2 separate regions of the Homo sapiens genome follow, and region 1 is linked to region 2. The links come from fine-mapping of genetic effects on gene expression. A gene starts in region 2. The other region holds a variant in brackets. All regions are shown on one strand. Distances are from middle to middle. Region 1 has its middle 10 kb from the start of SLC25A14. Region 2 holds the start of ELF4 (E74 like ETS transcription factor 4).

Region 1 (5,373 bases), 220 kb after region 2:
TTGCATCTTCTTTCTTTCTCCTGATCATTCTGGATACAGATTTTTACATTTTATTGGTCTTTTCAAAGAACCAACTTTTGATTTAATTGCTTTATCTCTGTTTTTTCCTATTTCCTATTTTATTGATTTTTTCCCCTTACCATTATTATTTCCTTTCTTCTGCTTACTTTAAGTTAAATTTGTTATTTTTTTTTTGTTTCGTTTTTTGTTTGTTTCTTAAGAGCAAAGCTGAGGTCATTGATTTGCGGGCTTTCAGCTTTTCTAATATAGGGATTTAGTGATTTGAATACTCTTCTGAGTACTGCTTGAGCTGCATCCCACAGCTTTAATTATGTTGCTTTTTCATTTTTCTTTTAGTTTACAATACTTTATAGTTCCCCTTTCAATTTCTTGTAGCAGTGAACTTCAGGGACATGTGTGGAATATCTGTGCCCAGTGAAGGCTGTTTCAAGTCTCAAGGTCTGAGGCTCTGATGGAATGCTTAGTCATATATGCACAACTGGCCATGGCAATTGAAACTCAGGAGGCTGGGCGCGGTGGCTCATGCCTGTAATCCCAGCACTTTGGGAGGCCGAGGCTGGCAGATCACTTGAGGTCAGGGGTTCGAGACCAGCCCGGCCAACATGGTGAAACCCTGTCTCTGTTAAAAATACAAAAATTAGCCAGGCGTGTTGGCATGTCCCTGTAATCCTAGATGCTCGGGAGGCTGAGGCAGGAGAATCACTTGAGCCCAGGAGGCAGAGGTTGCAGTGAGCCGAGACTGTGCCACTGATTGTGGTCAGGACTCCAACAACGAAACCAGGTTCACATACATCAATCTTGATGTTTGGGCAAAGCAACCCTAACAAGATGCCATGGCATGGTGCGTTACTCCAGGTGTACAGAACAAAACAGTCAATCCATCAGTGACCTAAAGAACATGCTGAAGGCTACATTCCCAAGGGGTGGCTTGGAGACATGCAAGGAGTAAGCCACCAAACATACTGTGTTAACTCCTTCTTCACAACAACCAAACAGAAGAATTCTCTATTGCTAACCACTGCCACTCTGAGGTACAGGTTAGATATGGGAGTAAGGGATGGTTAGGGATTGGGCACCATTTGGTCTACTATTACACAAAACCAGGAGTCACTTGTTTTAATGGAAGTTACTCTTTTTTTTTCATTTAAAAATATAAAGACTGGACACCTCTGCTTTGTGTGGGCTTGCTTTCCCCCGATCACGTCAACCTTTCCAGCTCTTGGAACAGAATCCAAAGTCCTTAGCATAATACACAGAGCCCCACCTGATCTCCCCACCCCCGGGGGACTCCCTGCCTTCATCTCCCACTGCCTTCCCCCTTCATGGCTCTGCTCCAGCCATGCTGGCGAACACACACCAGGCCCCTGCCTGCTTCAGGTCTTTGCCTGGAGTGTTCTTAGAAATCCTCATCACTGTCCCCTCATCTCCTGCATGCCTCTGCTCAAAGATCACTCCATTGGAGGCCTCCTGGCCACTGTAGCTAAAACAGCTGCCCCTGCCATTCTCTGCGCCCTTTCCTCACACCTGACAATATATCGTTAACCTGAATATTTAATTATTTTTTACCTGCTCCTCCTCCAACTCCCAATGAGACTGTCTGCACCATGGGGGCAGGGACTGTTTCTGGTTCGCTGGGAGGTCCTGAAGCCTAGCACCATGCCTGGCACAAAGCTGGGGCTCAGTAAGAGCCTAATGAATGAATGAATTAGATATAGATAGACAGTAGGTGGAGGGGAAGAAGGAGGGTATTTGGAACACAGTAAGATATTTTATTTTCAGCTCTAGGCTATAGAGGAAATGCTCAACTAAATTCTTAACTTTTCTCTCAGGACTTAAGTTTCAAATGTTATATTTAATACCATAAAATTTATTTTATAAAGATGATTTGGTTTCCTCTTAGAGGCTAACCTTGTCTAATAAGTTTTTTCTTTCTTTCTTTTTCCCTGATGACAAGTCACACATTTATAGAAGAAAATTTAAATGATGCAGAAAGGAATAAAGTAGAAAGTGAAAAGTCTACTAGACTGGAGGTTAGGGATAGCTGTGTCAGCAGGGCTTATCAAAATGTCCCTGTGGATAAAATGGCCACATCAAACGGTCCTGCTCTGCTGTTTATGTTCTTTGCCTATTTTTAAAGGAAAATATCTTTGAGTGTTTGTACACTTAGAATCCAAAGTCCTTAGCATGATACACAGAGCCCCATCTGATCTCCCCACCCCTGGTACCTCCCTGATCTCATCTCTCACTGCCCTCCCCTCCCCTTTAATGTACTGTGAGCTTTACAAGTTTCTTTTTAAAAAAAACTTACAAGTTTCTTTTAACTTGTAAAGCTCACTGTATATTAAAGACAATAGCCTTTTGTCCATCAAATATGTAATCTTTTTTTTTTTTTTTTTTTTTTGAGACAGAGTCTTGCTCTGTCGCCCAGGCTGGAGTGCAGTGGTGTGATCTCAGCTCACTGGAACCTCCGCCTCCCGGGTTCAAGTGATTCTCCTTCCCTTCCTCCCGAGTAGCTGGGATTACAGGTGTGTGCCACCATGCACAGCTAATTTTTGTATTTTTAGTAGAGACGGGGTTTTGCCATGTTGGCCAGACTGGTCTCGAACTCCTGACCTCAGTTGATCTGCCTGCCTCAGCCTCCCAAAGTGCTAGGATTACAGGCGTGAGCCACCGTGCCCTGCCTTTTTTTTTTTCCTCCAATTTATTGCTTTTCGTCTAACTTGGTGGTGTTTTCTGCTGTTCAGAAGTGATTTTTCATTGAGTGGTCAGTTTTATTAATCCTTTGCTTTTACTGTCTCTACCTTTTGTAGTGTGCTTAGAAAGGTCTTGCTCACCCCAGGGTTATAATAATACTGTT[C/T]ACCTACATCTTCTTCTGGTACTTGTCATGGTTTGATTTTATTCTGTCATGTTTAAATTTTAAGGCACGCCCCTTTTTGGTGATAATAGACAGGTATTGAGTGCTTATGATGTGTCAGGCTCTGTTCCAGGTGCCTTATGTGAATCAGCTCATTTGAATGCTCAGTAAGTCCAGAGATAGGTCTGGTAGATCCTTGTTTTCACAGGTGAGGAAACTTGAAGACAGGGTGATTGGATACTTATGCAAGACCACACAGCTGGCGAAACCTGTTCTGTCAAATGCTAAAGGCTACATAGGGTTGTTGTAAGGATTAGAGTTGTTGTACGTAAAGTCTCTGGAATATAGTAGGCAGTCTATAGATGGTAGGTTTTATTAATTATTATTACATAGCTCCCATAAGCATAATTTCTGACGGCTGCATATTATTTGGAAAATTGTGTATTTCAAAGTAAGTACATTTCTAAAATATTATTCCTTTAAAAGCATGTTTAGAATTCCATGGGAACAAACAAAACTTTTATTTGAAGAAACAATTGTCATAAAAAGAAATCCCAGAAAGATTGCATTAACGTGTGTTTCACTGGGCAATGGGATTTTGTGTGTGTGTGTGTGTGTGTGTTGTGTGTGTTTAAATCTTTGTTGGCAGAGCAGAGCGGCTGGCCGCTAGAGGTCTCTGATGCCCGAGGAGCTGTCAGTGGCGTGCTGGAGAGAGCAAGGGATCACTAACACCTGAGACGGACTACAGACCAGCACGTGCCAGAGGTGGAAGTCCAAGTTAAACGCAAAAGGACCACCTCCTGAGAACCAAGAATGTCAGTTATACCCGAGGCTTCTCAGCAGCAGCAAGCACCTGTGGTGAATTTCCAGGCTGAACTGAGACAAGCATTCTTAACTGAGACATCAAGAAGTGGTTAAAGCCGTATTGGAACAGCAAGGAATCTGATTCCAAGGAAAAACCAGTCAATGTAATAAAGATGTAATCTGTAATTTTTCAATGTGATGTAGATTCATTTAGTCTGTCTTTTTATGTTTGCTGCTTTCATTTTTTAGGAAAAGGCTATTACAAGGTTGATTTTGATTTATTACTTTTTTTTTTTCCTTTGGGATTTTTCTTTTTTTCGACTTTAAGATTAGAATGCTCTCATTTCTGAGGGTTTACTATTTACTTTTTATAAAATAAGAGCAGAGAGGAAGGCGGTTTATTGATAAATTCTCTTCTAGCTTTTCTTTATGTCTTTTTGCAATATTACCCCTCAACTTGAATTAATTAGGCCAATTTATGCCACCATTTTGAGTTTAAATCCAAGGAGACAAACAGGAAATTTCTGAGAAATTCTCCTTTGTTGAATCATTTATACCCAACATTTTCAGTTTTTTTTGTTTGTTTGTTTGTTTTTTGTTTTTTTTGTTTTGAGACAGGGTCTCACTCAGTCACCCAGGCTGGAGTACAGTGGCTTGATCTCGACTCACCTCAGCCTCCGCCTCCTGGGTTCAAGTGATTCTCCTGCCTCAGCCTCCCAAGTAGCTGGGATTACAGGTGCATGCCACCATGCCTAGCTAATTTTTGTACTTTTAGTAGATATGGAGTTTTGTCATGTTGCCGAGGCTGGTATTGAACTCCTGACCTCAGGTGATCTGCCTGCCTTGGCCTCCCAAAGTGCTGGGATTACAGGCGTGATCCACTGCACCTGGCCAGTATCCAACATTTTCTAGTAATTGCATGGGCTTGGTTGCAAGCAGATGGTGGAATCTGATCATTGTCCCAAGCTCTTCCCCAAGAGTAAGACAATTTTTCATTGAATAGGTGGGTACGTTTGATTTTTTTTAACCTAGAAATTCTTTAGCTTATCAGTTCAGTTCACACATTCTTGTAAATTTCTAAGTATAATATTTAAATCATACATTATGGTCTGCAAGTAGGACCATTTAATTTTCTGATATTTAATTATATCCTATTTTATTCTAGTCTCAACTGCTAGTTCTACCTAAACAATACTAGTTTAGGATTTCTTTAGAGCAGCGGTTGGTAACATATCTGGCCTGAAATTTTATTGGAACACAACCATGTTCACTTATTACATGTGATCTGTGGTTGCATTGGTGCTACAGTGGCAACTTTGAGTAGTTGTGACTGATCGAATGACAGGTACAGCCTAGAATATTTAATGTCTTGCCATTTAAAAGAAAAAAATGGCTGAACTTTGTTTTAGAGTAGCAGATTTAAAGAAGAAAACACCAGTGAGGCTACCGATAACGTTATAGAAGGTGATGAATAAAGGATTATAGACGTTTATATGAAGTATACATTACAGGGTAGAGAATCAGATGAATTTTTTGGGTAAGGGATGACTCGAAGAATCATGTTAAAACTTGCTATATAGGTAGATGGGTAGTTTTTAAAGACATTTAAACAATTGGTACCCTTTTTCATTATGAAAATATAAGGCACATGATAGCCAGGAAAAATAGATAAATAAACCATTATGTTATGAATA
Region 2 (5,373 bases):
ACTGGAGGTAGCTGGGCACAGTGGCTCACGCCTATAATCCAGCACTTTGGGAGGCGGAGGCGGGTGGATCACCTGAGGTCAGGAGTTCGAGGCCAGCCTGACCAACACGGAGAAACCCCGTCTCTACCAAAAATACAAAATTAGCCGGGCGTGGTGGTACATGCCTGTAATCCCAGCTACTCGGGAGGCTGAGGCAGGAGAATCACTTGAACCTGGGAGGCGGAGGTTGCGGCGAGCCAAGATCGTGCCATTGCACTCCAGCCTGGGCAACAAGAGTGAAACTCCATCTCAAAAAAAAAAAAAGAACTGGAGGTAAGGAGTTCAAGATTACAGTGAGCTGTGACTGTGCCACTGCACTCCAGCCTGGGTGACAAAGTGAGACCCTGAATTAAAAAACAAAAACCAAAAAAAAAACAACACTCTAAACGCAAAAACAAAAACTGGATGTAAAATTACATTGCGGGGGTAGGGGATGTGGAAAGGAAGAAGGCCAAGCTTAAGAGCAGAAGAGCAGAGGTTTCCCCAGGAAAGCAAACTCCTCAGCCTGTGTCTAGCTGGGTCTGTGCGGCACAGGGCCTGATTTTTGCAAGATGAGGGGCATTTTGGACATGCTATCACTCAGGCCCCTAGAGACAGACCACAGCACCCTCTATTTTAGATCCCAATATATGCCAGAGAAGACAGAAGCCACTGTGTCACCACTTAGCACTAGGTGAGGGAGAGTGAATTTTGGGCCCCTAGGTTGTCCAGGGGTGGGCGCCAGTTCCTGAGCAACCACCGAGCAAACAGTGCAGCACAGGGAGGAATGCCAGACATAGTTGCAAACAAGCCACTCCTTCGGCTCACAGCAAGAGGCTGGGTGAGGGTGGTAGCATGGAGCCTGCTTCATGGTCCCCCCCACCCCTGCCCCCAACAAGAGATCCCAGGCTCTGAATCCAGCCCCAAAAACAACCAGATGCAAGGTAGCCTCTTCCTCACACCAGCTGGCTGGGATAGGAAGTCCTCCCTGATAATCTTCACTGAACTCCAGAGAGCTCCCCCTACGCTGCTCCTGTACTGGATGCACTGAATCTGAATTAATGGTTGAGAAAGCACTTTATAACCAGGAAAACCCAGTGTAACTAACTGCAAGGAAGGACTGGCATTCTTGCTGGGCATATGTGTTCCCCGGGCATTTTCAGTGCCAAAGTCTCCCCAAAGGGAAGAGCTAGAACTGTTCCCTTCACCCACCTCCAACCTGGCACTCGGGCCAGGGGTCAGCTGGCAGGGGGTGAGTCCCCAATGGGCGTGCCCACCAGCTGTTGGGGCTGAGCAGTGGTGGTTCAGGCCCTGGGGTGGTGACCTCACTTCCGCTCCTACCTCCCCACCTCCCCAGCACTCCTCCCATTTGAGGCCCCACCAGGCCAAAATCGAGAAGTCCAAGGTTAACTGTTCTTTCCCACTTTAAGAGCTAATTAAAATAATTAGCCACAATGAACTGTCAAACATTAACCAGAAGAGGCTGCAGGACCAGACAGGCCTCTATCACAGGCCGAGGGATGAGGGGCAGGAATCAAATGGCCATCAAATCCCTCAGCTGGGGTATGGTGCGGGGCGGGGGCGGCCCAGGAGGACCTCGCTGAGCCGAGGTGCCAAGGGGTCAGGAGGTGACTCTGGTCAGGAAGGTGATGTGCAGGCATACGGTGGTGAGAAAAGGGAGTCAGGGTTAGGGTGCGGTGGAGGAGCCAGGAATTCATAAAGCGGTCACCGCCTCAGCAGTCCCTCAAGCCTCCAAAGCAAGGCGCTGGCGTGAGGGGACCCCGCACGGTGCGGCTGCTGAATCCCCTAGGCGGCGGCCCAGGAGGGAACCCGGAGGCGGGAGAGTCGGGGAGAGCGGGAACGCGGGAGCGGGAAGGCTGGCGGCTGGCTCACACGGAAACTCCGGCCCCTGCCAAGAGGTCTCTATTTTGGCGATCCAGTTCTCCACATCATAGGTCTGCGTGCGCGTGTGTGCGTGTGACCCTAAAGCCCTGGCCCCAGAAGCCCCGGGGGCAGTCGGATCCATCTAGCAGCTCCGCCGCGGTCCGCCCCACCTCCTCTGCCCTCGGGCGCCCAGCTTCTGGGGGCCCGCTGTCATGATCGGCCCCGTCACGGAACCCAGGCTGCCGGGGGCGAGGGAAAACAGGGGCCCCTACCCCGACTCCCCGACTCGGGGAATCCATTCCACTTCCATCCCGGGATCGGGAGCCCGGGTTCTCCATCACACGCGCGGCGGGGCGACTCCAGGGCGGCTCGCGACACTCCGCGACTCTCCCGCCCTTCCCTGGGCCCCCAGCCCCACGCCGGGGCCCCGGCGCTCTCGATTCCGCCCTCAAGCAAACTTTTCCACGTCCCCCAAGGCTCGAAGAACCGGCGCCATCGACGTACCTGAGGCCGAGTGGCTCACGGGCCCAGCTCGGTCGCCGGGCCGGGGTCTGTCTCCGTGGTCCCCGCTCCGGGGGCCGAGACGCGGGTCCCCAGCCCCGCCAGCCCGTCCTCTCCCCTCGGAAGCCGGGCCGGGCGAGCGGCGCCAGGAACTCGGCGCCGGCGAAAGGAGAAGTGGAAGTTGAGCGCGGCGCCCGGTCGGTCCCCGCGGCCGCCGGGGCCGCCGTCCCCCGCCCTCCTCCCCGCCCGCCCTTCTTCCCCGCCCGCCTGCCCCCGCCACCCCGCGCCCGTGACTCACCTCGGCGCCGGGGCAGGCTGGTCCGGGCGGGCGAGGCGCAGGGCTCTCCCACACTTCGCGCCGCCAATGGCAAGTTGGAGGGAGAGATGCAAATACCAGGTGAGACGGCGGCGCCCCTGATAAAACGGGGCGGGGGGCGGGGTGGAGCGCGCGGGGAGCGGGGCGGACGCCGGGGAGGGCCGGGCCAAGACACGGGGCGGCAGGGGCGCCCGGGGAGGGGGCGCGAACCGGCGCAGACATGCACCGAAACGAGCGAGCGAAAGGGGAAATGCAGTAGAGACACACACGTCCCCGCAGGCGGCGGATGGGGCGGGCGCGAAGGAGGCAGGGCGGGAGGGAGGGAAGAGCCGGAGGGAGGGACCGACGGGAGGGACTGCGGGCGGGCGGGGTGGGGGAGGGAACGAGGGAGGGACGAGGCATCTCGGTGGAAACAGCGCCCGTCCGCCCCGGCCCGCCCGCCGCGGTCGCCAGCACGGCATGGGGAGCCGTGCCAGGGGCCCGCGCGGCCTCTCATTCCCCTCGCGGCTCGCTCGCGCCCGGGGGACCACGAGGCAGGGCGCCCGCAGAGCCCGCGTCGTGCGCCGCGGCCCGGGCGGGCGCTCCCCACTCTGCTTCTAGCCAGCGAGACTCCGAGCTCTCTGCTCGTTCCGCGCCCTTCCCGGTGCGAAGCCCCCATACAACGCCCCGCAGAGAAATCCCTTCCCCGCGGACTCGGGAAGGTTTCGTCCAGCCCCCTCGGCCCGTGCAAGTGGAGACTTGCTTGACGCCTTTGGGCCAAGCCCTGCGCTCCACATTATTGAGCTCCTGGGGTGTGCAGGCCCCAGCGGGAGGGCGGGCCGTGCGGCGGGTGAGGCCGCGAGATGCCCAGAGGATACAATTTTGGAACCATATGCCCGACTCCGCAGAATCCTGGGCGTAACACCTGGGGTGACTGGAGAGTTTCGGCGACTTCTTAGGGAAGTCGAGTCTAGGACTCCTGCGGGAAGTTGGGGTGGGGGACGCTGGCAAGATATGAGTCAGGGGAAGGGCTAGGGGGAGAGGGGCTGGCCCAGCAAGTGCAAAGAGAGCCAGAGTTCGGGTGCTGGAAGAAAGCCCATGCCTACCTTTCTTCCCCTGTCCAAAGCCAGGCTGCTCTGCTCCACGCGCCCACTTGAAAGCCACTCAGGCACGCTCCCCTTCTATCTCCCCTTTGCCCTCTCTGACCTGCCTCAACATCAATACCGCCGCCTACGTGGGTCTGCTGATAGGAGGCTCTGGAGAGAGTGCGCTGGGAATTGTTACTCTGTATAGTTCCACGTGGCCTTTTTGGGGGTGGGGGCAGCAAGGCCTAAGCCTTGGCAGAAAGCATCAAGACTGAAGGAGCCCCAGGGGATGGGGCCTTCTAAAGGGCTTGAGGTTGAAGGACCTACTCAGCCTCCAGCATCGGCCTGCTTCTCCTGCCTTGGGAAAGGATCATCTCAGGCGCAGGACTGGGGGACAGGAGTGGTGGTGGATGATGGCCACAAAGGCAGCTGCAGATTACAAGTTCCCAAGGAAAGATCCTGTGGCTGGACTGGGGCGCCGGCCCCTGAGACCTCCTGGATACTCAGAATCAAGTCCCCAAAACAAGCACTTTGTCTTTTCCAAGCGGGCATGCTTTTCCCAGGGGATTCCAGATCCTGGAGACACACAGTTCTCTGCTGGCCTCTCATCCACGAGGTCCCCTCTCAAATTTGGGGTAGGTTCCGGATGTCCCTAAGCCCTCTTTACCTTGACTTTGAAATTCACGAATGGACAGACACGTCTGCACACGCGTGCACACACACACACTTTCCCATTTTGCTAAGAGCTCAGTGGTCTGTAACCTCAGACAGACCTGGGTTCCTATTCCAGCTCACTATTTACCAGCTGTGTGACTTCAGGCAAGTCACTTAAACTCTCTGAGCCTCACTTTTCTTCTTTAAAACAGAACAAAAACAAAAACTAGGCTGGGTGTGGTGACTCATGCCTGTAATCCCAGCACTTTGGGATGCCGAGCGGGGTGGATCACTTGAGGTCAGGAGTTCAAGACCAGCCTGGCCAACATGGTGAAACCCCATCTCTACTAAAAATACAAAAATTAGCCGGTGTGGTGGTGCATGCCTGTAGTTCCAGCTACTCGGGAGGCTGAGGCAGGAGAGTCACTTGAACCTGGGAGGCAGAGGTTGCAGTGAGCCGAGATCGTGCCACTGCACTCCAGCCTGGATGACACAGTGAGACTCCATCTCAAAAAAATAAATAAATTAAATAAATTAATTTTTTTATTTTTGTTTTTTATTTTTATGGGTACATTGTAGGTGTGTGTATTTATGGGTTACATGAGATGTTTTGATACAGGCATGCAATGTGTAATAATCACATCAGGGTAAATGGGGTATCTGTCACCTCAAGCATTTCTCCTTTCTTTGTGTGTTTTCTTTTTCTTTTTTTTTTTTCCTTCTTTTTTTTTTTTTTTTTTTTTGAGATGGAGTCTCGCTCTTTCTCCCAGACTGGAGTGCAGTGGCGCGATCTCGGCTCACTGCAAGCTCCACCTCCCGGGTTCATGCCATTCTCCTGCCTCAGCCTCCTGAGTAGCTGGGACTACAGGAACCCGCCACCATGCCCGGCTAATTTTTTGTATTTTTTAGTAGAGGCAGGGGTTCACTGTGTTAGTC

The links.
Region 1: its variant is fine-mapped to the expression of ELF4 in whole blood (TOPMed, PIP above 0.99).

What each region holds. Positions count from the first base shown.
Region 1 is chrX:130,327,277-130,332,649 of GRCh38, forward strand. It overlaps the pseudogene LOC112268303. Among named protein-coding and RNA genes, the nearest start is that of SLC25A14, 10 kb to the right of the region's middle. The variant C/T (reference allele first, on the strand shown) is at 2,879.
Region 2 is chrX:130,107,919-130,113,291 of GRCh38, forward strand. ELF4 (E74 like ETS transcription factor 4) reads right to left here and starts at 2,579. Exons shown (of 9, transcript NM_001421.4): 1 at 2,407-2,579. It also overlaps a transcript of RAB33A not described here. RefSeq lists silencers at 2,461-2,530, 2,611-2,760, 3,011-3,060, 3,071-3,120, 3,191-3,310.